4 linked regions of the Homo sapiens genome follow. The protein of the gene in region 2 purifies or fractionates together with the protein of the main gene of each other region. This does not show direct contact. Each region holds a gene or a part of one and is shown on either strand. Other genes may lie near its edges. The genes, in order: ARHGAP21, SAPCD1, CTNNA2 and ARHGAP23.

The links.
Region 1: the proteins of SAPCD1 (region 2) and ARHGAP21 purify together in Homo sapiens (affinity purification with mass spectrometry; 3 studies listed by BioGRID and IntAct, with this or other methods). This does not show direct contact.
Region 3: the proteins of SAPCD1 (region 2) and CTNNA2 purify together in Homo sapiens (affinity purification with mass spectrometry; 3 studies listed by BioGRID and IntAct, with this or other methods). This does not show direct contact.
Region 4: the proteins of SAPCD1 (region 2) and ARHGAP23 purify together in Homo sapiens (affinity purification with mass spectrometry; 3 studies listed by BioGRID and IntAct, with this or other methods). This does not show direct contact.

What each region holds. Positions count from the first base shown.
Region 1 is NC_000010.11:24,594,881-24,601,904, forward strand, and holds part of ARHGAP21 (rho GTPase-activating protein 21), read right to left. Parts: intron 6,051-7,024; coding exon 5,766-6,050; intron 3,130-5,765; coding exon 3,065-3,129; intron 2,704-3,064; coding exon 2,567-2,703; intron 2,003-2,566; coding exon 1,860-2,002; intron 1,164-1,859; coding exon 1,008-1,163; intron 916-1,007; coding exon 837-915; intron 311-836; coding exon 237-310; intron 160-236; coding exon 70-159; intron 1-69. UniProt on the Homo sapiens protein: Functions as a GTPase-activating protein (GAP) for RHOA and CDC42. Downstream partner of ARF1 which may control Golgi apparatus structure and function. Also required for CTNNA1 recruitment to adherens junctions.
Region 2 is NC_000006.12:31,757,696-31,765,374, reverse strand, and holds SAPCD1 (suppressor APC domain-containing protein 1), read right to left. Parts: upstream 2,720-7,679; 5' UTR 2,321-2,719; coding exon 2,207-2,320; intron 1,961-2,206; coding exon 1,820-1,960; intron 1,312-1,819; coding exon 1,216-1,311; exon of another isoform or gene 1,110-1,215; coding exon 1,020-1,109; exon of another isoform or gene 940-1,019; coding exon 844-939; 3' UTR 525-843; downstream 1-524. Other genes in the region: MSH5 (mutS protein homolog 5), read right to left, coding at 2,844-2,955, 3,190-3,263, 3,420-3,557, 3,760-3,903, 4,113-4,190, 4,536-4,685, 5,159-5,285, 5,400-5,589 and 5 more.
Region 3 is NC_000002.12:79,873,044-79,880,067, reverse strand, and holds part of CTNNA2 (catenin alpha-2), read right to left. Parts: intron 5,993-7,024; coding exon 5,726-5,992; intron 1-5,725. UniProt on the Homo sapiens protein: May function as a linker between cadherin adhesion receptors and the cytoskeleton to regulate cell-cell adhesion and differentiation in the nervous system. Required for proper regulation of cortical neuronal migration and neurite growth.
Region 4 is NC_000017.11:38,431,441-38,438,464, forward strand, and holds part of ARHGAP23 (rho GTPase-activating protein 23), read left to right. Parts: intron 1-7,024.

The sequences.
Region 1 (7,024 bases), on a different chromosome or scaffold from region 2:
AAGTAATGAAGCATATCTTTTAAACTAAAGCCACTAAAAGTACATTTCTTCAATAAGCATTTTACATACCTTATTTTTTTCTGAATTTTCTGCCACTGTCTTCAGATGAGCTGAAAGGAACTTAAGTGTTTCATAATGATGTTCAGGCAAATCGTGAATCTGAAACAGATTATTTTCACAATGGATTCAGAGGCTGAATTTTAGTTGTATCCCCCAAAATATAAAATAATACCTACTAGTCTTTTTAATGTTTTCAGACGATCTAGAGGATCTTCTTTACGATTGGCTTCAATAAAATCAGCATATTTATCTGACGACAAGAACAATAAAACAAATTTATCTTAAATTGCCTAGGTGAATTGTAATCTAGTTTCCCTTTAAGGATCAATTTTAAACCACAACATAGGAAAGAGTTCTAATAGTTTTGAAATGTAAATTTCTAAAATGTAAGTTCCCTGCAGGAACCATCCTATATTTACACAGCCTGTCCATTCCTCCCCCACCCTCCAACAACATCTAGTAAAGTGTCTTACATGGCACTTAAATACTTGGCTTGACTGAAAAAACATTTTTCTACTCATTGTACCTTATGATGTCAGAAGCCATTTGACTGGAAACAATAATATTAATTTGGCTGCAAACATGTATGAACAAGATAATACATATTTCACTGAACCTAAATAACTTTTATGTTTTTAATATATGAGGGAGAACTAAATAAAGCCTCCTGCTTCCTTTGACCAAGACATTTTGTCCTTGTTCAATTTAATATTCTATGGTTTTCCAATTGTAACTTGAACCATTTCATCTGGTATCTTTCACGGGAGTTAACTCACCATTTGTGAAGAGAGGCTCAGGGAGTTTTCTGAAGAAGGATTTTAGTAAACTGCTTATCACATTCAAATCTCGCCATTTCTAGGTGTACAAAATAGAAATATAGTATTTTCATATCCAGTTCCACCAAAGGGGGAAAAAAAAGGATCAGTTATTCAAATAAGCAAACTTACATCATCTTGTATATCAATATCAGCCATTCCCTTGTTGAGTTCTTCTTGCATACTTGAGATGGCTGCATTATTTCCAGGAACTCTATAAATACCTGTATATTCAAGACCTCTTTCTTCAACTAATTTGCAACATATGTCAACTATTAATGGAATATACTGCAAAACAAGAAATAAACATTTTATTTAATGCAGCACAAATGTTTAGTAGTTGTATATCACAGCTAAAATGCCCCTTTCATCCAAAAGGAAACATAAATTGCTGTTATGTAATATAAAGAATACAGACATTATAGATCTGGGAATAGATAAAACCTGCAAGAGATATTTGAGACAGTAAGAAGAGAACAAAGAGACTGAAAGAAAGAGAGGGACCCCCAGAGAGATAACATTCTAAAAAGGAAGTAACAACAGGTAAAGAGAATGTGGAAACCGTTCCGCTGAATAAAGAGTCAAGAAAAGAGGAGGAGAGAGTAATATCAATTCATGATACGAATCCTAGCATGGGTGTTTTAAATATATGCACATACATTTACATGTATTATACTTTCTTAATCAGGTCCTTGTTCTCATCCTTGTTTTAAAATGCTAAAAGCAGAAACACACGATTTGAAGACGAATTCTTACAGACCATTTCAGACAAATTCCTAATGGTTGAATAATTATTCAATTTCGGAGTCAATACATTAGAAAAAAAGCATTACAGGTCAGAAATACTTAGGGAAACTAAGGTCTGCTATGAAAAGGAAAACAGATTGACAGTCTCTGTTGTCTGAAAGGCTATATACTCAGATCCCATTATAATCAAAACTGAATTAATGACTTGAGGAAATCCGGTGGGCTGGTGTCTCCTACCCGATTAGTATGAGCTGGTGGGCAGTCATCTAGTCGGACGCCGAAAGTTCCTGTAGCAGTTGGCTTTTTCTCAAATGTCTTTCTCATGATACTTGGAATGCCTTTTCTCCATGTGCCTTTGTCTTTTGGGGGACTGGTATCATCTTTTGATTGCCAGTCAAAATAAAACAACATAATAAAATGGAAATGAGTGTCTAAATCATGACTTTAAAAACACTTTATCAATGTTTACATAAATCCAAGTCCTGTAATATAAATAATACATCCTATATTTAACAAAAATATGTTCTCTTCCATATAACTTTTACTTCATTCTTTTATAATGCGTGCTATAATTTTCTTTAAAACAGCAAAAAAAAAAACTACATAGAATCAGTGTGTCATCTTTATAGTGAGACTTCAACAAAGGGAAAAGTAATAGTTTTATTTCAAAATGATAGGACCTGAATCCTCGGAGTCATTTAAATTTGTAATGTCTCTGATTTAAGTATTGTTTGTATTTTCCCTCACTTTCGCTTTATAATGAAGCTGGTGTCTTGGGCCTCACAAAGGGAAAGGCCCAATGAGCCCAGACCAAGCCTACTATGAATTTTGAGCTAGTTGACATGGGGCCTGGTCAGTAGAAATGGTACAGAAAACATAAACGTACCTCAACGATGCCAATTTTAAATCATTATATTTATTTGTTAGAAAGCTAACATCAATACCTTTACTGAGAAGTTTCCTTTCCGACTCTTCCTTCGGAGAGTGTGGGCTTTGAGTCTTTGGCTCTGATTTAGCACCAAGCAAAGTTTGCCTGATGCTGAGACTCTGGCGAGGTGTTTTTGGCAACTGTTCTGCTTTGCTGTTGAAGGAAATGACATTTGTTAACAATTACAGTAATCCCCCTCTATCTATGGTTTCAGTTACCCGTGGTGAGCCATGGTCTGAAAATATTAACTGGAAAATTCTTGGAATAAACAATTCATAAGCTTTCAATTTTGTAGTCCTGCCCAGAATAAGAATCATCCTTTCATCCCGAGTAGCCACACTGTATACACTACCCGCCCATTACTATATGGGAAAAAATATAGCGTAGAGAGGATTTGGTACTATCTGCGGTTTCAAGCATCCACTGGGGGTCTTGGAATGTATCCTTGCAAATAAGGGGGATGACTGTACTGATTTTATATCCAAATTAACTGCAGGCAAGGTGGGATTCTCACCTCATCAGATTGTTGTATTCTTTTATTCTTCGACTAATTAGATCCCTGTTAGTGACTCCAGTGTCCTACAGAATAAAGTAAAATTAGAAAATCAATTCTAAACATAAATAAGTGATCCTTACTTTTTTGAGGCTTTCTATTGTACTGCTTTGCTTATTTAACACAAACACTACTATCATCTGTTCTCAGTGGAGCTGTTTCAAAGCTTCTATTCAACATCACTGTGTGAAAGATTTTCCAAGTGCCTCCCAACATTGCCAAAGGGTTTTGCTTCTTTTCTGTATCCATGCGATACCTAGGATAGTACCAGCAAGTAACATGTGTTCAATACTTATTGAATTGATCCGTCCATTTAAAATAAATGACTAGGAAGCAGCCAGTGTTTTCTCTAATACCAGAAAGAATGATCAGCATTTAAGAAATATACGTGTAAGTGATTTTTCTTCAAAAAGAAAAACAAATAATATAGGTGGATAAAAGATGAAAACAGACTGCCAGAATTTGTTAGTGACTGACTAATTTTTAAGGATAGTGAAACCAAGGATCAACTAGTATCACAAGCGGCAGTTACATTATCAGAAGATAAGAGAAAAGCTCAAAATTTGCATGATTTTTTTTTAACCTCTGTGAGTTACCTTGTATGAAATGCTATATGGTAAACCCAGAGTTGACCATAAAGTGATCCTTTTTTTCCTATTCATTCCAATTATACATTGATATTGACTGGGGTTCTCAATTTTTTTTAACTTGCCTCATTTTGATGATAGTGAATGATGATACAGTTTACAAAGAATACAGTCTTTAAATACGGGAGTAAGTTATCTTGAATTTAAATAGACTCTTCCAACTTATCAGCTGAGAGATCATATGATTAAGATCTAGAATAAGACTGCCTGGATTTAAATCCTACCCCTGATGCTTAAGTCACTGTGTGACCTTAGGGAAATTATTTAGCCTCTCTTTGCCACTGTTTCCTTATTTTTAGAATGGTGGTGATGATAATAGGACACATTCATATGGTTGCTGAGATTAATGCATGTAGTATGTTTAAAATAGTATCTGCCATATGGTATGTGCTCAGTGAATTATTGTTTTCTCATCTATAAAACTGGGGAAAATACTTGTGTACCTGTGTCTTAAGATTAGATGGTGATGCTAATAGCTCACATTAAGTAAATGTTTATTACTTGGCAGGCATTCTTCACATGCATTATCTCATTCAATCCTCCAAACAGCCACTATGTGTCACAGAACAAGTCATCTGAAGGAGTTTTAACAATGACAGTCTACTGCCTGAGAGAATGCCTGACACATAGTAGGTGCCTGTTACACAGAACTCCTCTGAACTATTACTTAAAGCTGAAATCCACATCTAAGTTCTTATTCTCCCTGTTTATTTTGCAAAAATTCAGGTCTGATGCCCTCTGTATAGCGGGTAGTTGTACAACATAGGTTGCACTGATAAAGATCTGGTGTTATTTTTAACCACAAACAAGGCAGAGTGTAAACTACCAAAGGAAAAAAAGCACACTTTTCCTATGGTGTAACGTTTTAATACTTTGAATTGGATATAATGGAAATGACTAAATTAGAACATAATTTGCATAAGTTTACATTTAATGTAGGCATTCCTGAGTATTAAAAGAGAACTTCGTGCCCCTTTTTTGGTTATAATAAATAGGCATGAAAAGTGAGAACACAGTGAAGAAAAAACTGTGTTAATGATAAGAAAATACTTGAGCAACTGCTACTTCATCATTGCTAGATTTGCTTGATAAAGTTTATAGTTATACATACTTTAAAAACTATCTTTACTATTGAAATTCCTACTGTGAAAATACCTTGATGATCATAAGCTGTAAATTCTCAAATCCCTAAACACTGTTCTGCATGAAAAAGAAATGCTGGGCCGGGCGCGGTGGCTCACGCCTGTAATGCCAGCACTTTGGGAGGCCGAGGCGGGCAGATCACAAGGTCAGGAGATAGAGACCATCCTGGCTAACACGGTGAAACCCCATCACTACTAAAAATACAAAAAATTAGCCGGGCATGGTGACGGCTGCCTGTCATCCCAGCTACAGGGGAAGCTAAGGCAGGAGAATGGTGTGAACCCGGGAGGCAGGGCTTGCAGTGAGCCAAGATCGCGCCACTGCACTCCAGCCTGGGCAACAGAGCAGGACTTCGTTTCAAAAAAAAAAAAAAAAAAGCTGACTTATGATTTTTGAAAATGCAAGTTTTCTTAGAAACTAACTATTGTGTGACAGTAGGCTATTCCATATTCTTGACTGTATAGTTCTCTTAACAAAAATCATCAGTATCACTCTGCATTTATATAGTTATTTATACTGGTAAGTATTTTTACTGTAACTTAAGCCCTACAACAATCCTGTCTTTGAAAGATGGAAATGGATCTGGAATAACTTGGTCACAAACAACCAGGACTAGGAATGTAGTTCATTGCTTCTGAGAAGGTATACAGCATATATAAATAACCTATTTTTCTAGTTCAGTGATGGTGATTTTCCAATGTGTGAAAATAATATAAAACAGGTATGTTTGAGTTTTCCTTTTCATCAACTGTTTTACATGAAAATAGCACATTATAATTTTTTTATAAAAATGATATATCATATTCCTTAGATCTTTGTAAGAAAGTGTTGTGAAAGGGTCAGATTTCTCCAGCATTCCTTTGAACACCCACCTCTTCGTTTAGGTTGCTGCTCTCCTGGATCGTCTTGATCCAAGCTAGCATATCATCTCTGTCTTCAGCCTGAAACAGGCATTCACAGTCGGACGTGGTGAGTCGAAACACATTTTTCCTCTTGGTCTCACTGTAAGAGATGTCTATCAAGCAAGCATTAACACTGATGGGCTGCTCTTCCTCAGACGGAGTCGTCTGCTCTCTTTTATCTTTGTACAGGTAAAGTGAATGACCCCGAAGGACAACATACATCTGTTTCCATGGCCGAATACTTCCACCAACTCGCTAGAAAACATGCGACAGTTCTTTAATAGTCAATATTTGGCTAAATCTTTGTGACAGGATAAGCACATTAAGCAACACCCTTCCTCTGCATTTACATATAACTAGTGTAGCAGGTGGCAGATTTAGCTCACTACATTATTTGTGAGGAGAGGAAGGATAAAAATTGTGGAGCATAAACTGAGTTAGGCAGTGTATTCATATCAAAGTCAAGGACTGTGAAATCCCAACTTTAGTTGGGAAGGCAATATGAACAAAGCTAATCAAATAAAATAAATGTAGCAAAACATATCAAAAACAGTAACGGAATAGAAAATTTAAAAATCGGTCCAAAAAACCTGTTGAGTGAAAGACTTACGTCTTAGAGCACACAAATGACAGATACTGCAGGAGTTCTCCAACAATTGTATACATAACTAATTAACAGAGTTCATCAACTTTATATGGCTAAGCAACTCTATCCACATCCAAAGTGAGCTTTCTTAAAATTTTTAAACTCTTCTGACAGCATTAAAATGTTCTTATATATAAGCTGTCCAAATATTATAGAAAATTTTTATGGCAAAGTCTTTTTCTGTTGAAATCTACTGGATGCATATATTGATATTTTTATATTTGTTTAACTTAATATTTTTAAAATAAAATGAAACAAAGTTATAAAGGTAATTTAAAATAAACTAAGAAAAGAGACATAAAAATTTAAAACTGATTTGCCACTTCCTAAAGGACAACGGAATAACCCATTGCTAATAAACTAATAAGAAAAGCAGAGTTCCTTTTTAAATACTTAGATTTCCTTTTTACATTGCCAAAACGTAAGACAATATATTCTACATGTAGCTGATACACAGGACAAAAAGTACCAAATTAATGCAATAATTAGAATTTTTTTAAGGAATACTTTTTTTAATGTAGAAAAATCTATTTATAAATGGTTTTTTTTTTCACTCTTTAATCTGGATATCATGCCATTTTAT
Region 2 (7,679 bases):
CTCTGCCTCCTAGGTTCAAGCGATTCTCCTGCCTCAGCCTCCCAAGTAGCTGGGATCACAGGTGCCCGCCACCACGCCCGGCTAATTTTTTGTATTTTTAGTAGAGACAGGGTTTCACTATGTTGGCCAGGCTGGTCTCAAACTCCTGACCTCAGGTGATCTGCCTGCCTCGGCCTCCCAAAGTGCTGGGATTACAGGCGTGAGCCACCGTGCCCAGCCAATGAAGGTTTTCTTTCTCCATCACATCCCTTTCCTTTCTTAGAAACTTCGAGACTGGGGCTGGGTGCAGTGGCTCACGCCTGTAATCCCAGCACTCTGGGAGGCTGAGGCAGGAGGATCACTTGAGCCCAGGAGGTTGAGGCTGCAGTGAGTTGTGGTCGAACCACTGCACTACAGCCTGAGCGACAGTGAGACCCTATCTCAGAAACAAAACAAAACAAAACACCCTGCAAGACTGGGATAGAGGGCAATGGATATTCCCACAATGCACTTTTCCTAACCCTATGAGAAACAAACCAAAGACATTTTTGGAGAAAGCTGCTTTCTGGAGCAGTTTCAGTTTTATTTTTGTATTTAAGGCTGAAGGACAGTTTCAATAAACATGCTTCTTCCCAGAGGGATTTCAAAGAAAGATCGTTTTTGCATGTCATATAGGGGAGAATGAGGACATGAGACACCAAGAAGATGAAGTTTTCAGGAGCAGAGGAGAAACTTTACACCAACATGTCTGAACTTCATTGACTCACTACCTGGAGCCATTTTTTAGCTGTTGAGTTAAGAAACAGAAAAAGGAGCCTGGGGCTTCTGACTCTTTCACCAGGCTTAGGGGAGTGAGAGGAGGGTTTAGACACGGGTAGGGCCTCTTGGCCCCTTGGTGCAGCCCCGCTGAGCCATCTCCTCCTTTGGCTGGGTGACTCCTTTCTGCTGCCTTGACAACTCCTGGAGGAGAAACAGATGGGGCCTCTGGGCTCCTCCCAGCCCTGTAGGGTGGGGCTCCTGCCCTCCTTCTTGAAGTTTACCTGTTGCTGCCACAAGTTCTGCTCCCTTCGTCTTTCCTTTGAATCCTGGGTGGTGCAGGAACTAGCCTTGTTCAGTGGACTTGGGGAGAACTGGAGGGGAAATTCGCTGTGTTTTCTGTTAAGCCAGCACTGACCCCAACAACTCCCCTCTCTAGTCCAACTTCCCAAAAGTCTAAACTGAAAACAATAAACTCACCTTCTCATGAATCAGATTCTGCAAACAGATGTTCACCTTTTGAATCTGGGCTAACGGGGGGCGACCAGGCTCTGAGTGTAAATCTGTTAGAAAATTCTAGAGGAGGAGTTGGAGGCTGACAACATGGTGAAAACCTGAGGTCGTCTGCCACTCTATTCCTGTCACCACAGGCCATCCCTCTCATCTGGATCCCCTCGTCCCAGTACCCTCCCAGGCAGGTGGGAAAATCCAGTACTCTCCACCTCCATCTCTTTAGCACATCAGTTCCTCCATCTCCCTCAAATAGCACAATACCCCCTTTCACTACTCTTCATGGAGCCTCCCTGTCCATCCCTGCCCCATTGGAATAATCCAGGCCACACCCTCATCTCCATGGAGTGATCCAAATCCCTCTGAATGGAATGCAGACCAGCTTCCTCCAGCCCCAACAATGAACACCAACTTAACACTTGGTGGCATCCTGTCATTACGATGCTGCCTCCAACTCATGATCCCTGACCATTAACTCTCCCCTCTCCAGAGTGGTCTCAGGCTGTGTCTACACATTCCCTGTTCCTCCCTCCCTGGTCCTCCCCCCATTCACACAGAGGGGCAGCCCCCATACCTCACCAAGGGCCCCTAGATGCAGCTGCTGTCGCTGTGCCTCCCTCAGATGGTCTTCAAACCAGGCCTGGCCATGCTGTAGCAGCTCCAGACCCTGCCACAGGGCATCCTGTTCTCTCTCCAGAGCCTGCATCCTGCGTAGCTGGGAAAGGCAATCACAGAGGCTGACTCTCACGCCACAGTAGGGCTCTGGGTTATGGCCCTTTCTCTCCACCCCTAGTTGGGTTCACTGTGTGGTCACTGAGTGTGAACCCAGACTGGCCACTGAGGACCTGGAGGGCAAGGGGAGGCAGGCGGGAACACTGTGGGCCCTCAAGTTGAATGGAAATATAAAGGGCAGATCTATTGAGAGAGTTCCCCTGGGACCTCTTGTTGGGCTGATACTCACCCAAAGGAAGAAGCTCTGGGCCCCTGGGTCTTGGCGGCTTGTCCCCAGCGGCAGCAGCAGGACTGTGTAGGGAGCCTGCACCAAGGGCACCCCGCCAGAGCCCTGGCTCCCCATGGCTCTGAGGTGGGAAGGGTGGAGCCACTCCCACTGGTGCAGCCCGGGCTGGTCCCTCCCCTCCACCCCTGCCTTGCACCCATCCTGCCTCTGTCAGCCTCTCAGGCCCCTTCCTGCTGTGTCTGTCTGAGGCTGGGGTGTTCCTACTTGAGAAGAGAGACCATCTCCCTTGGACCCCTCTGTCTTCCCTCTAATCTGTTTTGTAGGGCCTCTCTGAAGGGGTTCGTTCTCATGAAGTATCCTGGGGTAGAATCCGGGAGTCTTCCTACAGCAACAACACTGTATTTTTACTGAGGCAGGGCAGGTTCCCCTGTGGACTCCTGCTCTGTGTTTTGGATCTTTCCTAGTCTCTTGTTTTGAGACTAAAGAAACAATATCTTTCTTCAAAATAAACTTTATTCCTAATATGAAACAAAATTTCTAGAGAAACTAAAAACTCTGCGTCTGAGGGAGATAAGGAAACAAAGAGGGCATGGCAGCCCACCGGAGTCTCAGGAGGCTGGGGAGGACACTGGAAGGACTCTCAGAGGATGCTGGTGGCAGCAGGCAGCACTTCCTGGCTCATGAAAACGTTCAAGTCCAGGTTAGGATCTTCCAAATCCAGTTTCATAAACTTATCCACTAATGTCTGGCAACTGAAGAAGAGAGAAAATCGCAAGATTTATGGCAGAATGGACAACCAAATCCCTGGGCAGAGGGGAGAGGCTGTGGCACAGAAAACCTGGGATCTTGAAGATTTAGGGATTTCAGAAAGAAATGGTGGGTTTCTGAAGGGCAAAGTGCTGGAGGAAGGCTGAGTCCCTGAAAAGGGGAGAAGAGTTGCAGGAGAAGATGCAGAGAGGGTAAAGACACTGGGGCCATATACGCACTTTTCCATTTGGTTCTTCTTTAGCAAATCCTTGACAGGCTTGATGGGTTTTCCACTGCGGATCAAGTCTGAGACCTAGGAACAAGCAAGAAGGTGGGAGGAGTAAGGGGAGTGGGGAAGAGAAGGGGAAATAAGGGTCAGAAATCCTGTGGACCTAGACCCAGGCCCAGTAGGACTAGGAATGAAAGGGAGCTCTGATGTGGAGGTGGTTGCACATTTGGATCTCATCACCTCCTTGCCACGAGCCACAAGCTTGTCAGGAAGCCCAGCCTGGGCAGCTGTGTGGGAGGCATGGCTGGCCTTCGCAACACCTTCGCAAACCTGATAGAAGAAGACAAGATCGTTGCCATCCTCACAGGTCTCCATGGTCTTAAAAGAGAATAAAAGACAGTGTATCATCAATCACCTCCTTCCTGTCCTGAAACCCTTGGCCAATCCTGTGGGGAGGGAGAAAAGGGAAGGGATGTGGTCTCTGTGCTGAGGGAGCCCTTGTTCTGATAGAGGAGCCAATCCCCACCTCTGGGAAATGCCCAGCCTGGGGGTCCCCGAGGAGCTAGATTGGTCTCCTCACCAAATACTGCACCAGGGGCCCTTGTGGCAGCAGTTGTAGCTGAACAAGGCTCAGAAAGTTGGTGGCCACAAAGATGTGGGGGCATGTGGGTCCACGTGCCAGCCAGTGTCGGAGCACAGCGGCCAGAAGCGCGAGCCCATCCACCTGCAAAGAGGGCAGAGGTTAGCATTCGGAGCCATGGGGACCCCATATGCCCCTCTGCACTTGCACTGCCTTTCCCTGTCTCGTGTTCTATTTCTTTTCTGCCCACACAGCCCTATTCCATTCCAGAGGCCCAGCCTCACTGTCATGCTCCTTCATCCTCCTCCATTTTCCCCTCCTTAGTTTCTCCCCTCATCAGTTTCTCCCCTCACCGTGTTGGTTCCCTTTCCAAATTCATCAATAAGGACCAGCGACTGTGCAGTGGCATTGTTCACTGCTTTCGCCACCTGCTGGGTATAAGGTGGACAAGGGAAAGTTAGTATTGGAAGCCCGTAACGCACTGACCACAGTTGGCCTGTGAATAAAGCTGTATACATGCCCTCCCTACTGCACTGCAAGTTCTTGAATGGTGAGGTGCACGCTTTGTTCATCCTCTTTGCCAACAGTGACTCACATGAAACAAGGGTTCAAGAAATGTTTATGGTATTGATTCTTCTTATCTCTGACCTTAGTGCTCCCCACTTTTAGTATAAAGGGCATGCAGCAGAGGGCATGCTTTCCTGTTATGAGCATTTTCAGGGGTTCCTTTCCCATTATCCCCTTCCTCAATCCCACCTCCCTTTGTTCCCTTTGACCTGGTTGAGGTCGATCATGAAGGTGGAGAGGCCAAGGGAGATGGATTCGCAGCTATGAATTCGTGTGAAGATGGCGTCTACTGCCCCAATTTCGGCCTCCTCTGCTGGCACAAAGCTGCCTACCAGGGCCATGAATGTGATCAAGCCTACCTGAATAGGGAAGGAGACAGGGCCTGGGGCCTGGTGCCGTGGGCTGAGGTGAAAGTGAGGCTCAAGGCATGAATGGCACATCAAAGAGAAATGGACAGGGTGAAACAGGAGAAATAGGTAACAGACACACTGACTCTGTCTCTCCTCCCCGAATCCTGACCATAGCCCTGTGGGCTAATTTAGAATCAGTGAAGAGGCACGGGACGTGGGCAGAGACATACTTGGGAGTGGTGTGTACCTACTCAGAGGCAGGTGAAGGAATTTGGGCCACGGAAAGTTCCATTAGAGCATGGCTCTCCAGTGGAGAATAAGAACATGTGAGGTGGAAGCACAGGGATGTGGGTGATGGTCCTTTCATGAAGAGCGGGGTCAGAAAATGGGAGAAGAGCTGCAGGAGCCTGAGTTGGCTGGCAAGTAGGGGTGGAGTAGATGCAGGAGACGCCAGAGGCCCAGGCTGCAGGGCTTCTCCTCACCTGTTTGAGGTATATGCTCTTCCCTGATGAGTTGGGTCCAGTGATGACTTTGACCCTCCCTTTGTCCCCACCACATTCTGTGGAGTTGGGCACAAAGGTTCGGGCACAGAGTTCCATCAGAGGATGTCTGCAGTGGGCGGAGAGGCACCTCGCATGGCTTGTGGATCAAGATAGATGAACCCCCAGAAGATGTAGCCTTTGGGCCCCTCATGTCTATTCCTCCACCCGCCTCTATTCTTACCTGCCATTCTGGATTCGTACCCCAAGGACTTGTGGGGAGTAACGCGGCCTTGAGTAGCCATAGTCCCGGGCAGCACTGGCAAGAGCCAGCAGGACGTCCAGGCGGGAGGCAAGGTCCAATACTCGGGTTAAGACAGCTGCTCGTGCCAGCACCTGGCACTGTAGCTGGTACATCAGCAGCGTCTCCTGGTCTGGGAGTGGGTGAGGAAGGGAGCTGGAGGTCAGTTCCAGGGGAAAGTGAAGGAGAGGCAGAGGCCCCTAGGGGGATCTGGAAACAGGTTGCAGATACAATCTGAGACCTCAAGACATTCAGAGGAAAAGATAGAGTCAGAGTGAGCGAGACAGAGAGCAGGAAGAGGAGGGGCCTGTTGGAAGCATCCCCAAGTTGCCCACTCCCCTCCTTCCCCTGGCTGCTGCTTTTTTTAAACATCTTACAATGCATATAACCTCTGGCTTTTCCTCACCCCGGATCTCGCAGTGCAGGTCCCCCAGCAATGCATCCAGCTCCTTGGTTCGGGCACTACGATAGTGCAGCTTCTCCTCTGAGAGAAACTGGGTACAGGGGTTCAAAGCTGTGGACTTTGCATCTCTTGGTCCTCCTCTCCTTCCCCATCTTTCTAACCCCACCTCCAGCCCCTAACTCTGACTTCTCTTTCCTTTGTCTCAGTGCTGGTAAAGCTCAGAGTAAAACTACAGAGGAGAGATCCCATATTGGGCAGTGCTGCTGTAGAGTAACGCTCTTCCTCAGCTGCTGACTCATTTTCCTCATCACTCACCTTACAGAGGTTGAGGGTCTTACCATGAAGTCCAGTCCATTAATCTCAAAGTCACTGGCCTCTACCATGGAAGGCAGGCGGGGAATAGAAAGAAGGAAGCCAATCTGGGGAGAGTAAAGAGGAGATACTCTACTCTCCTGCTTGGAGACTTACTGGACACCTCCCCACCCTAGAGGGAGCTTAAAAGATCCCTGTATCCCCACAAAAAAGTGTTCATGTTCTTCAGGCTGCCCCACAAGTTTTCTTATCTACCAGTATGTCTTTCATAAGCCTAATATCTCCCCCAAAAGACATCTGAAGGCTACACCCACTCTCCTGCCCTCACCAGAGGGATGTAGATGACACTGCATGAAGGAATACGGGAGTCCAGATTCTCCAGCTCCTTGCGGGCAACCTCAGTAAGGAAACTGGGAAGTCCCATCAGTCTTCGCTTTTCTACGAGGGTGGAAGACACGTGGTTATCAAAAGTGAGTCTCCTGCCCTGGTTGCTATGAAGATCCCCAGCTGTGGTGACCACCTGCCAAGGATGGTACTCCATCACTGCGCAGGGCTCACAGGCCCATCCACACCCAACACTCACTCTCATCAATTTCAGGATCTATGTTGGGGAGGACTGTGAAGCGATTTTCAGCAAGGCTGCCCTCAAAGTCCACCTGAGGAGATAAGTACTGTTTCTTAGGACCTGGCACCCTCTGTCCTGTTCCTCAGCTCTCCTTGGGCCCCAATTCTCCCTGCAGTCCTCCTTTAACTCTCACCCTCCAGATACTTCCCTGAAGTTCTGCTGCCTCCTCCCACCATCCCATTCTTTATCCAATTGACCTCAATATCTTCCATGTTTCCCCATCTTGCACACTGCATTCTCTCTCCCTGACCTCCCTGGGTGCACTCCCTTTTTCCTTCTACTCACTACTTTCCCAATGAGGCTGGCGATATGGTGCAGGTCATCAGAGAACTCTTGGGCAATGTCCCGAAAGAGCTGGATGGACTGCGGCAGGGAGCGGCAGGCATCCCTCAGGCCCAGGGCACTGTACACAGTCTGTGAGAGAAACACAAAAAGGAGGACAGGCCACATCCAGCTCGGGTTGAGGTGGTGATAGGGACAGACTCAGAAGAACAAAGACCAGTAGGGAAGATCACAGTAACAAAGAGGGAAGATCTCAAAGGCAAAAAGAAACAGTGAGAGGCACTGTACCAAACACTGAAACTACAAAGACAATTAAGATATGGTCCTGGCCAGGCACAGTGGCTCATGCCTGTAATCCCAGCACTTTGGGAGGCTGAGGTGGGTAGATCACCTGAGGTCAGGAGTTCGAGATCAGCCTCACCAACATGGTGAAACCCTGTCTCTACTCAAAATACAAAAATTAACTGGGCTTGGTGGCATGCACATGTAATTCCAGCTACTTGGGAGGCTGAGGCAGGAGAATCTCTTGAACCCGGGAGGTGGAGGTTATAGCCAGATCACGCCATTGCACTCCAGCCTGGCCGACAGAGCGAGACTCTGT
Region 3 (7,024 bases), on a different chromosome or scaffold from region 2:
ATAGATGCAGAAAAGGCCTTTGATAAAATTCAACATCGCTTCACATTAAAAACTCTCAATAAACTAAGTATTGATGGAACATACCTCAAAATAACAAGAGTTATTCATGACAAACCCACAACCAATATCATATTGAATGGGCAAAAGCAAGAAGCATTCCCTTTGGAAACCAATACATAACAAAACTGCCCTCTCTCACCACTCCTGTTCAATATAGTATTAGAAATTCTGGACAGGGCAATCAGGTAAGATAAAGAAATAAAGCATATTCAAATAGGAAGATAGGAAGTCAAATTTTCTCTGTTTGCAGACAACATGATTGTATATCAAGAAAACCCCATCATGTCAGCCCAGAAACTCCCTAAACTGATAAGCAACTTCAGCAAAGTCTCAGGATACAAAATCAATGTGCAAAAATCACAAGCATTCCTTTACATCAATAACAGACAAGCAGAGAGCCAAATCATGAATGAACTCCCATTCACAATAGCTACAAAGATAATAAAATACCTAGGAATACAGCTAACAAGGATGTGAAGGACCTCTTCAAGGAGAACTACAAACCACTGCTCAAGGAATTAAGAGAGGACACAAAAAAATGGAAAAACATTCCAACCTCATGGATAGGAAGAATCAGCATTGTGAAAATGGCCATACTGCCCAGAGTAATTTATAGAATAAATGCTACTTCCATCAAACTACCATTGACATTCTTCACAGAATTAGAAAAAGAAACTACTTTAAATTTCATATGGAATTAAAGAAGACCCCGTATAGCCAAGACAATCCTAAGCAAAAAGAACAAAGCTAGAGGCATCATGCTACCTGACTTCAAACTAAACTACAAGGCTACAGTAACCAAAACAGCATGGTACTGGTCCCAAAACAGACAGACCAACGGAACAGAAGAGAGACCTCAGAAATAACACCACACATCTACAACCATCTGATCTTTGACAAATCTGACAAAAACAAGCAATGGGGAAATAATCTCCTATTAAATAAATAGTGCTGGAAAACTGGCTAGTCATAGGCAGAAAACTAAAACTGGACCCCTTCCTTACACCTTATGCAAAAACTAACTCAAGATGTATTAAAGACTTAAATGTAAAACCCAAAACCATAAAAACCCTAGAAGAAAACCTAGGCAATACCATTCAGGAAATAGGCATGGGCAAAGACTTCATGATGAAAACACCAAAAGCAATTGCAACAAAAGCCAAAATTGACAAATGGTATCTAACCAAACTAAAGAGCTTCTGCACAGCAAAAGAATCATCAGAGTGAACAGGCAATCTACGGAATGGGAGAAAATTTTTACAATCGACTCATCTGACAAAAGTCTAATATTCAGAATTTACAAGGAACTTAAATTTACAAAAACAAACAACCCCATCCAAAAGTGGAGAAAGGATATGAACAGACACTTCTCAAAAGAAGATGTTTACATGGCCAACAAACATGAAAAAAAGCTCAACATCACTCATCATTAGACAAATGCAAATCAAAACCACAATGAGATACCATCTCAGGCCAGTCAGAATGGCAATTATTAAAAAGTCAAGAATAGATAGATGCTATAGATGCAATTGGTGCTAGCAAGGCTGTGGAGAAACAGGTACGCTTTTACACTGTTGGTGGGAATGTAAATTAGTTCAGCTATTGTGGAAGACAGTATGGCAATTCCTTACAGATCTAGAACCAGAAATACCATTAGACCCAGCAATCCCATTATTGGGTATATACACAAAGGAATATAAGTCTTTCTACCGTAAAGCCACATCCACATGTATGTTTACTGCAGCACTATTTACAATGGCAAAGTTATGGAACCAACCCAAATGCCCACCAATGATAGACTGGATAAAGAAAATGTGCTACATATACACCATGGAATACTATGCAGCCATAAGAAGGAATAATATCATGTCCTTTGCAGGGACGTGGATGAAGCTGGAAGCCATCATCCTCAGCAAACTAACACAGGAACAGAACACCAAACACCACATGTTCTCATTCCTAAGTGGGAGTTGAACAATGAGAACACATGGACACAGGGAGGGGAACAACACACACCAGGGACTGTTGCGGGGTGGGGGCAAGGGAAGGGAACTTAGTGGATGGGTCAATAGGTGCAGCAAATCACCATGGCACATGTAAACCTAGATAACAAACCTGCACATTTTGCACGTGTATCCTGGAACTTAAAGTAAAATTTTTAAAAAATAAATTTTAGGGCAAACTAGCTGTGCTGTCTATGAAAATATATTTTGCATTTTTATGGTTCCTTTTACTTCAGCATTTCAAAGACGTTAAACTTATTTAAATTTTCACTATATGAGAAAGGTATTATACCAAGTATCAGTAAGAGATTTTGCCAGAAAAGTAAACCACAGGAAGTTTGAGTGAGTTTTTCACCCAATGAAATATCAATTTGTTTAATATCTGAGAATAGCATTTAGGACTCATGACAGATGTCCATGAATTCAAAATCAATTTCAAGTTAGCATGCCTAAGAAATTTTTAAAAAAACAGTATTCATCATACAACTATGGAACAGAAATTTATAATTTAGTCATAAAATAAAGAGAAACGGTATATTATTTTAATGAGAAAATTTCAAGTATCATTAACTACTGTCTAGGTTTGCTGATGTCAGAAGTGATGGAAAATCTACAGCAGGTGAATCACATTACAGTCTGTAAATTCAATACTAATTTACTAGCATTACTACTTTTGAGAAAGTGCTGAAATTAAATTGCATTTGTTAAATGACAATTGTTAGGGAACCACATCAAATGGAATTATTGTTTCAAAACTGCAATTCAGACAGCCTCCACATTTTGATTTTTGTTGACCTCCAAGAAGTAAAATGTTGACCATTAGATAACGCTTTATGTAATTCTCATAGCTTGAGAAACAGTATACATTTAATAAGAATATATTACCTCATTAATATACTTAGCTAATATAAAATATAATTTTTTCATTCATATATAATATACTGAGTTAATATTATAAGTAATATAATTAGTTAATATAGAAGTTTAAAGTTAATAAAATATAGTTAGTGACTTATTTACCATATTATACTTTATATTTTAATTTTTCCAACTGTTTCAAATATATCATGTTTTATAAAAAACATGTTTGATGGTTATATTCATGTGTTAAATTTCCAAAGCCTTATTTGTCCAGCATGAGGAGATATCACTTCAGGAAAAACAACAACAACAAAAAAAAAACCTTGAACATTCAACATGTTGACATACTTTGCTAATAGATTTTCCCCACATGACCTCAAGTTTGATTTTTATGAATGAAAGCCTTTTGCACTGTTGCACTGACGCATCGGTTGTTACATTAATTGGGGATAAAAGGTGCTTTTAATGAAAATCGTCTGGAAACAAAAGGCAGCATGGGGAAGCAGCAGTTGTCACACTCTTGGACAGAAGGTGGCAGCAGCTGAAGTTCCTGGACTGTTCACAGGCCTTCTCTCTGTGCTTCATATTTTCACTCTTAACCAGCTCCTCACTTAGGTTTTGTTGTTTATTTTTGATTATAAAATAAATTATAACTAGAATAATGTAATTGTGTCAAAATCTGACTAAATAATCCATTCTTAACTAATTTTAATAAACACCAATTTATAAAATAATTTTGTATTTGAGATTGCCTATGATTTTTATTCTTTCATGGATGAGTCCATTTGTGTTTCAATACACACCTTTAAAATTAATGTAGCATTACAATGTTTTAATATCTGTGTGTATGACCTGCTCATTTACTTTTCCCTGAAATATGGGCTCATTCATTCTTTATTCTAGAATATAAAAAAAGACAAACAAACAAAAATCCTTTATCACTCCTCTGTCAAGTTCCAAAAGAATCCTCTTAGAATTTGTATTGAGATTGCTTCAACATTATGAAAACTGATAGGATCAATAGTTCTCCTACTCAAGATCATGATATCATTTACTGACAAGTAAAACTTGTCCCTCAATAAAGTAATATAATTTGACTTTTTAGGTCCTTCACATCTATATTAGACTTATTTCTAGCAGATATAAGAAATAATAAAATAAAATTAACTTTTTAAAAATTATTTGTTTTGTGAATATCTCCTCGTTATTCTACTTTATTTTACATGATGAAAATCTAGAGATTTTTGTATATTTATGTTATATAAAGTAAACATTATTTTGAACTCTCATTATTTTCTATGAATTTTCAGTTGCTCGCTGCAATTTTGTGAATAAAATTACCTATTATTAAGTCTTCATTTCTGTAGCAAGTGCTTTAAATATATTATCATATTTAATCCTCACAAAAAAAACCTTAGGAAATAATATATGGTGTGAGATACATATAACTAACTGTAAAAATATGGGAAAGAGGAGAGACCACTATGAAAATGGTAAGAACTATTTGAGTATGAACTGTTAAAATTATTCCTCAGTTATATCATCCATCTCCAAGCCTTGAACAATCATTGCTTTGCTCCTGGACCTTTTTTTCCAGCTGCTAACTAGTTATTTCTTGCCAAAAATTCACATCAACATATTCAAAAGCAAGCTCATCATCTTTCTTCATGACCATTAAGTAACCTATTTTTCTTCTATGAATTCCTGTAACATTGTGTTTTATCAATTAAATGGTGTTTAGTGCATTCTACTTCCCTCATCTCCCCTGCAGGGTTATTTAACCCTGGAAAGTAGATGCTAATTATTTATAAATCTTTGTAGGCTTTCATTGATCATAAGATAAATAAATTCCAACTTCTCACAGGTCCTCTGACCCGGGGGGAATGGGGGCTGTCATCCCGGGGTGCTGATGACATGCGTGCAACCTTCTCACTCACACTGATGCTTCACATATGGCTCAGCACAGTGAACAATCCTCCTTGCTTCTTCCCTCACCAGGACACACCTACAGAAACAGCCAGTGTAGAATGTAGGACTTTCAGAGAACTAACACAGGCTCTCCCCAGAGGGTCTGTTCTAATGAAGACCAGGGTCCTGTGTGGGATCATAGGGCAATGTACTTTATCACTGATTTAAAACAAAGAAATTGATGGCAGCTTTTCACGCAGGCACAACATAGAGGCAACGTACATCTAGGCTGCCCATAACATGTGCCCCTTTAATAATAAAGATGATCGTCAAATTATGAACTGTCCCTAAAATAGCCTGTAAGTTATCTCATCTACCTGGAAGGGATTGGGCACTCTTAAATACAGTTGTTTCTTCTTTTTTCCCCGAGACGGAGTTTTGCTGTTGTTGCCCAGGCTGGAGTGCAATGGCACGATCTCGGCTCACCGCAATCTCCGCCTCCCGAGTTTAAGCGATTCTCCTGCCGCAGCCTCCCGAGTAGCTGGGATTACAGGCATGCGCCACCACGCCCAGCTAATGTTTTACATTTTTAGTAGAGACGGGGTTTCTCCATGTTCGAACTCATGACCTCAGGTGATCCACCCACCTCGGCCTCCCAAAGTTCTGGGATTACAGGGGTGAGCCACCGCAGCCACAGTTGTTTCTTTAAAGACAAGTGATAATGGCTTAGCCAATATATTACAGAAATGCATTATGTAGTTTATCTTACTATTAAAACCTCCAAAAGAGAAAAATCAATGTAAATTATTGTAGTGGCCCTTCATCCTCAATACATTTTTTTTTTTTGTCAACACCAGTGCCCACCCCTCTGTGTACCTCACCAGGATGCTTACGTCAAACTCATTAAGAGCCGCAGCCAGCTCGCCGATGCCCGTGTGGCCCTTGGCTTCGTCAGTGGGCGAGGTAGCTTGAGCAGCATTGGAGATGCCGGCGATGGCCTCCTGGACTTGTTTGAACACATAATCTCGGTTGGCTCTCGTAGCGGCGACATCTGGGTGGCGGAGAAATGCTTGAGAGGCCGTGTACAGCATTGTGGCATTCTTCTTCAGAGCCCCTCGGGCGGCTGCCATCTCATCCCGACAGTGAGGATCCTTCAGCTCCTGTGTGTGTAACACATGAAAGCTGTCACACACATGAAATTTGCATAGAAATATTTGCAACACAGTTTGGAGTCACAGACTCTTAGTAACACACTGAACTTCAGAAACCCTTGTGCTGTTTCTAGCTGCCAGGCCTTTGCATATACTCTTTTGTTTGTTTGTCTGTTTTATAGAGACAGCTAGGTCTCTATAGTGACCTAGGTTGGAGTACAGTGGTGTTATCAAAGCTCACTGCAGCCTCCATCTCCTGGGCCCAAGTGATCCTCCCTCTTCAACCTCTTAAGTGGCTAGAACTACAGGTGCATGCTTCCACACCAGGCTAGTTAAAAAAAAAAAAGTTGTGGAAGTGGGGTCTGGCTATGTTGCCCAGGTGGGCCTTGAACTCCTGGCCTCAAGGGATTCTCCCACCTCTGCTTCCCAAAGTGCTGGAATGACAGCCATGAGCAACCACACCTGGCCTACTGTCCCTTCTATGTGAAATGCCTGAGCTTTCCTCCTCTGCCCTACCCTTTCACCTGACAGGGCTCCACTGACTTGGCACATCCTCCACCCAACTTTCTAAGCTGTGTCCCCTTTCATCTGTTCCCACAAGACACTCTTCCTCTCCTATCACTAACACTTCCTACTTTACTGTATTTTTTGAGCATATATTTCTCTTCTATAACGTACCTCTAATGACAGCAGGGAGCCCTAGTTTTCTTATTCAGTGGCTCTTTAGTCATTAGCAAAGTGGCTGGCCTATAAGAGGCATTCAATAAAATATTGCTGAGATAATATAAAAACCAAGCCACCAAGAAGGTAAATTGATTGCATGGGCCATACAGTTAGTTATGAACAGACAGAAAACCTGAAAACGTCAGTCTTCTGAGGCCCTACTTGCCTCCATATTCAATTACTGTTACAAATGGGAAACCAAACTTCTGATTTTTGCTCAACACATCAGTGTCCCTTAATTATCATTTTCAGAATAGGGTTCCTGCTTTGTTGTTGTTGACAGCCTCTAATGGCAGCTCATCATTAAGTTTAGAGAAC
Region 4 (7,024 bases), on a different chromosome or scaffold from region 2:
CGGGAGAGAGACATGAATAGGGCCTGTGGGAGCTGGTGCTGCCTTTCCCCTAGCACCCTCCACCCGCTTCAAACAACCCGCCTTCAGATCCAGGCCCCCCTGTTTCTTGTGAAATTGTGCCAGTTTGTCAGCAGGGCAGTACCAATCTGTGCCAGGTGGGTGTCTCCTCCCCCATTGCCTCAGTGGGACATCAGGCTGAGATGGCCTTGGGGCTGGACTTTGGGGAGATTTTAAAGCCCTTTTGGGTTGGGGTGTATTTACCACCTGTCAGAGTGGGTGAGGACCAAAGGGGTGATCGTGTCCAACTCTGTTACGCTACAGTGGGGAAACAGACTGGGGAGTGCCCAAGGTCCCTCAGCCTCGGCAGACAAGGACCCATCTTCTGACTCCCAGCTCCCAGGCCATGCCTTTCCCTCTGTGGTTGGTTCTGTCCTTCGTGGCCCCCCTCAGTGCAGGGTTCATGGACTGGGCTCCAAGAGGGAGAGGGGAGGGCAGGGAGCTGCAGGGATGAGTGGACAATGTATCCTGTTCATCTCTGTGTCCCCAGTGGCCAGCACAGAGCCTGGCACAGAGCAGTTCTCCATAAATGTTTGTGAAGTACAAACCAGGGAACAGCCCCGCCTGTGGCCCCCCAGGGCGCCCCATGCCCAGCTCTACCCCTGACACTGTGATGTTCCATCTCATATCCGTCTACCCTACCAGGTAGGAGTTATTTGAGGCCGAGAAAAATGATAATAGCAACTTCTTCCATAGTGCTTACCACTATGTTGGTATATTACCATCACCCCACTTGACAGATTAAGAAACTGACACAGGCCGGGTACAGTGGCTCACACCTGTAATCCCAGCACTTTGGGAGGCCAAGGTAGGAGGATCACTTGGACTCAGGAGTTTGAGACCAGCCTGGGTGACACAAGGAGACCCAATACCTACAGAAAAATTTTAAAAATTAGCTGGGGCCAGGAGCAGTGGCTGACACCTGTAATCCCAGCACTTTGGGAGGCCAAGGCGGGTGGATCACCTGAGGTCAGGAGTTTGAGACCAGCCTGGCCAACATGGTGAAACACTGTCCCTACTAAAATTACAAAATTAGCTGGGTGAAGTGACACACACCTGTAGTCCCAGCTACTTGGGAGCCTGAGGCAGGAGAATCGCTTGAACCTGGGAGAGGGAGATTGCAATGAGCCAAGATCACGCCATTGCATTCTAGTCTGAGTGACAAGAGCAAAATGTAGTCTTAAAAAAAAAAAAAATTAGCTGGGCATGTAGTCCCAGCTACTCGGGTGGTGGAAGTGGGAAAATCACTTGAGCTGGGGGGTTCGAGTCTGCAGTGAGCTGTGATTGCACCACTGCACTCCAGCCTGGGCAACATAATGAGACCCTGTCTCAAAAAACCAAACCAAACGAAACAAAAAAGCTCTGCCTGCCTTCAGCCTGCTGAGGTCCAAATTTTAGATGTACTCCTTGTTCACTGTGTGCCCTTGGACAAGTTACTTCATTGTTTTAGCCTCGGCTTTCTTTTATTCTTTTGAGGCAGGGTCTTGTTCTGTTGCTCAGGCTGAAGTGCAGTGGTGTGAGCTTGGTACACTGCAGCCTTGAACTCCTGGGATCAAGTGAGCCTCCCTCCTCAGCCTCCTGAGTAGTTGAGACTACAGGTGCATGCCACCATGCCCAGCTAATTTTTCCATTTTGTATTTTTTATAGAGACAGGGTTTTGCCATGTTGCCCAGGCTGGTCTCAAAATTCCTGGACTCAAGTGATCCTCCCACTTTGGCCTCCCAAAGTGCGGGGATTACAGGTGTGAGCCACCACACCTGGCTGGTTTTCTTATCCCTGAAATAATCCCTCAAAATTACAGAGAGGGCTAAATGAGGTAGTATTGGTAAAGTGGCTGAGATTTAGTAATCTCAATTATTGGTAGCAACTATTATTAAAAAAAATCAATGGATAGAAATGAGAACAATGCACTTTTGCCTCAGTAAAAAGTACTGACCTTTATGGTCAGAGCAATCTAAAGAGAAAGTGACCTGCCTCTGGAGGTAATGAGGCCCCCATCACTGGAGGTGCAGTGAGGTCTGGGCAAGCACAGGCTGGAGAATGATGTGCACTAGAGAGAATTCAGCAAAGGCTTGGCACAGGAAACTTTAAGGGCCCTGCCTTGGGATCAGCACTATATGATAGGAAATTAGAGGAGCAGGTGAATCCTACTTCCTACTGTGGGGCATTGAGGAGAGCAGGCAGAGATGTCCCCAGCCTCTGGGAACATCAGGGGTTGGCTGCTATGGTTTGGACTGTGAGGCTCCCCAGAGGATAGGTAGTCCTGAGAGGCTGCCTGGAGGAGGCCTGCAAGGGTGGGTATGGTTCTGATAGGTGGGAAAATGTGGGATTGTATTCTAGGCCCAGGAAGGGCTTGGTGGCCGAGGGACAGAGAGGAGCCTGGGCCACTGGTCCTGAGGTTGGCCCCGGGGTTGCGTCATCATCCTCGTGCCTCAGTCTCCTGGGCTGCTGGGATTACAGGTGTGCCACTACACCTGGCTAATTTTTTTTATTTTTTTAGAGACAAGGTTTCGGCATGTTGGCTGGCATGTTGGCCAGGCTGGTCTCGAACTCCTGACCTCAGGTGATCCACTTGCCTTGGCCTCCCGAAGTGCTGGGATTACAAGCGTGAGCCACCGCGCCTGGCTGGATTTTGTCATCATCCTGGGTGCCCAAGGGGTTTGGGTGTATGGTGGTGGCAGTGGGGAAACTAGTAATTCCCTGTCCCGCCAACCCCCCAGCTTCTCCTGGAGGAGGAGCCAGGGCTACTCCCGGTGGCAAGGAGCCCGGGCCCGTAAGGAGCGGAACTGGGGAAAGAAAGACTTCTTATGCCCAGTGCATTTGGGGGCGTCCGGGGGTCGGGGAACAGTGGGGCCTTTGTCCCCAACCGCTGGGAATCTGGCCGAGGAGCTGGCCCTGGGTCTGGCTAGGCCCTCGGAAGGCAGGTCCTCTTTGAAGTGACCCTTTCAAAGCTCGGCCTGAATCCCTGGGAGGAGAGACAGCATGGGGCGGGGCGTGGGGATGACTGAGACCCAAGGGCCGAGGCCTGAGGGATAGAAACAGACCCGGCCTTGGCCTCTTGGGGTGTGGAGGTTGGTCGGAGGTGTGTGGGCCGGAGGAATGTGGTGGGCTGGGAGACCGCGTGGGAGCCATGTGGGAGGACAACCACGCAAGGGGCCTTAGCCCCAAGTGGGGGTGCACCTAGGCAGGGGCCGAGTTCATTCTGGCCCGAGAGTGTTTCTGTCTCCTATCTGACTTCTGTCTGGCTCTGTGCTCCTGTATCAACAGCTGCTTCTTCCTTTTTAATTTCCCCAAAAGTGTGAGAGCTTGGAAAGAATCGGGTGTGGACGCCAGACTCAGAGCTCTTGGGAGGAGGGAGAGGTGGGGACCTGGGCAATCCAGAGCTTTTCCTGCTTCTGAGAGCCCCCGAAGGCTGGAAGGAGAGGCTGGAGGGGACACCCCCACCTCCCGCATAGAGTCTCCCTTATGCTCAAGGTGGAGGAACTCTGTATTGTTCCTGAAAAGGGACAGAAGGAGGAGGAAAGCTACCCAGAGAGGGGACATCTTCCTTTGCTTCAGCTGGAGGAATATCAGAGGCCACCCTCCTTCCCTGTCTCTCCATTTGCCTCATGGGGAAACTGAGGCCTAGAGAAGGGACAGGCCAAGGGGATAGAGCAGAGAGGAAGGGACCAGCAAGAGTGGAAGGAAGCCAGCCCTGTGTGGTTGGAACTGTAGGGACTATGGTGGCTCACACCTGTAGTCTCAGCTACTCGGGAGGCTGAGACAGGAGGATTGCTTGAGAGGATGGATGCCAAGTGGGAGGAGGAAGGGGCCTCAGGTTGTTGAGTTGTCATAAGAGGGTTGTAGAGAAGTGCCCAGAGTCCCTTCAGCTCTGACCTGCGGTGATTCCATGAAAAGAGGGAGAGGAAGGAGTGGTTCCTGCTGGTGAGTTCCCAAGGTCCAAGTAGAAAGGGGCACCCCAGGCTTTTGGACTGAGCAATGCACAGGGGAGCCTTTGGCAGCCCAAGGGAGAACCTTGCCCCCGAATCTGATGCTGTTTGTACTTCTTGCCCTGGAACCCGATCTCTCCTTGGCCTCACGGCAGTCTCTGTACTGGGGAAAATTTTTTGTTGTTGTTGTTTTCGAGACAGAGTCTCGCTTTGTCACCCAGGCTGGGGTGCAATGGCGCGATCTCGGCTCACTGCAACCTCTCCCGGGTTCAAGAGATTCTCCTGCCTCTGCCTCCCGAGTAGTTGGGATTACAGGCGCCCTCTACCATGCCCGGCTAATTTTTTTGTATTTTTAGTAGAGATGGGCGTTCACCATGTTGGTCAGGCTGGTCTCAAACTCCTGACCTCAGGTGATCCGCCCGCCTCAGCCTTCCAAAGTGTTGGGATTACAGGCGTGAGCCACCGTGCCTGGCCTGGGAAGATTCTTATAAATCTCCCTTTCCTCTTCTGGAGGTGTGGCCCTGGGCTCCTCCCCAAGAGAGGTGGAGGAGGGGGCGGAGGCCCCAGGCTGCAATGGAGGCTGTCTGCGCACTGTTATCTTGCACTGGCATCACAGAGCTGAGCTTCATTAGCTCTAATGAAGCCTTGGCACTGTGCCCCTCCCACACAGCACCTAGACGTTTCAAGGAAGGCGAGGGGGACAGCTGAGGTTGGGTCCAGAGCCCAGGAGATGGTCGGGGGGATGTTTGCAAGAGGAGAGGGTAGGAGGCAGAAAATGGGGACCACACAACCAGGCTGGGGTTGCCAACATGAGGGAGAAACAGCCCCTCTTCCTTCCCCACTGGGAGCTTTTTCTTCTCCAGTGGCCCAGAGGCCTAGGTACCCCCAGTGCTAGGGAAAGCCTTATCTGAGAGACGGGATGTGGTCTGGGGATGCTGAGGATATTCCCCTCAGCTACCCCTACCCCCCCAAAAAAAACGCTGAGGAGAGTGCCCCTCCTGCCCTCTCCGTAATTTCAGCCGGGGGCAGGAGAAGGCCCTGATCCCAGCATGGGAGGCCCAGGGCTTGGGAAAGTCCGCCAGTGGGCTGGAGCCGAATCGAACCCACTGTCAGTGGTGATCACTGGTTGCTCGTGCTCTGCGTTCCAGGCTCTCTCTTGGGACCTGGATGAATGAGAAACAACCCTGCTCTCAAGGGCCTCCTTGTCTGCTTTTCCTACCGCCCAAAAGCCAGACAAAAAGTCTCCACAAAGACTGTAGAACCATGAGTTCTAAGATTTGCATCCAGCCCATCGATCAGTCCAGAACACCCCTCAGGGGCCCCCTGCCAAAAATATTAATGTAAAAACGGCCCAGTCTGACTGGGGTGATGGACCTGCAGCCTACACAAGCCAATGTCTTCACCATGGTAATCGTTGGAAAGTGAGTGTGGTCACAAAGGCGATAACGGGAGTTTAAAACTGGAAGCCGGAAGCTGGGTAGAATTGCCACAGGGATTGGTTAAAAACCAGTTGGTGATATGATTAATCTCCTTTCTCTCATCTGTTTCCAAATCTATCATTAACCTGAGGATTCTATAGTGAAATCCTTTTTGATCGATTTTCAAGTGCCGTCATAAAGGGGGTGTATAATTACAGATGCAACGACTGAGACCTGGAGTGGGCAAATAACTTCACTCAAGGTCACCAAGCATCAAATTTCAAGCTGGGCCAGGCATGGTGGCTCACATCTGTAATCCCAGAGACTTGGGAAGCTTCGACAGGAGGATTGCTTGACGCCAGGATTTTTTTTTTTTTTTGAGAGAGGGTTTTGCTCTGTCACCCAGGCTGGAGTGCAGTGGCACAATCAGGCACACACCACCATGCTTGGCTAATTTTTTTGTAGCGATGGGGGTCTCCCTATATTGCCTAGGCTGGTCTTGAACTCCTGAGCTCAAGTGATCCTCCTGCCTTGGTCTCCCAAAGTATTGGGATTACAGGCATGAACCAAAGATCAATTTGAGACCAACATGGGCAACATAGCAAGACCCTGTCTCTAAAAAATTAGCCAGGTGTGGTGGTGCACACCTGTAGTCCCAGCTACTCGGGAGGCTGAGCTGGGAATATTGCTTGGACTCAGGAGTTTGAGGCTACAGTGAGCTATGATTGCACTGCTGCACTCCAGCCTGGACAACAGAGCAAGACCCTACCCACCCCTACCCCCCCCAAAAAATATTAAAGCTGGGTCTTTCAGAATCCTAGGTCTGTCATTGTGGTGACTGCTGTATTCTCTGACAACAAGGAGCCTGGGAGGACACCCCTCACCCAGGGAAGTTAGACCCTCTTTTCCACAGCTGAGCCCTGAAATCCAAGCAAAGGTTGGCATAACGAAGGGGGGGGAGGGCAGATGTAATGGGTGGTGGGTGCAGAGAGATGTAGATTAAGTTCTGCTTCTCTGTGTCTTCTGTGATTCAGTGTGGAGTCTGGATTTGCTCGTGAGTGGCGTGGGGGACCCCAGGGTTCTGTCAATAAACATGGCTGAGCCCCTGCCTCCTCCAAAGATGGTCCAGCTCTCAGGGGAAGAAGGCTTCACTGTGGGGAGATGAGGCTTGCCAAAGCTTGAAAGATGTTTGCTAGGGCCAGGCACGGTGGCTCACGCCTGTCATCCCAGCACTTTTGGGGGCCAAGGTGGGCAAATCACGAGGGCAAGAGATCGAGACCGTCCTGGCCAACATGGTGAAACCCCATCTCTACTAAAAATACAAAAATTAGCTGGGCGTGGTGGCATGCGCCTTTAGTCCCAGCTACTTGGGGGGCTGAGGCAGGAGAATCACTTGAACCTGGGAGGTGGAAGTTGCAGCGAGCCAAGATCATGCCACTGCACACTCCAGCCTGGTGACAGAGTGAGACTCCGTCTCAAAAAAAAAAAAAAAAAAAAGATGTTTGTTGGGGCAAGAAAGGGATGGAGGAGAAGGGAGAGAAGGGTGTGCCAGGCAGAGGGACCAAGCATTAGCACAGGCAAGGAGGCATGAACCAGCTTGGCCTCTTAAGGGATTGATGA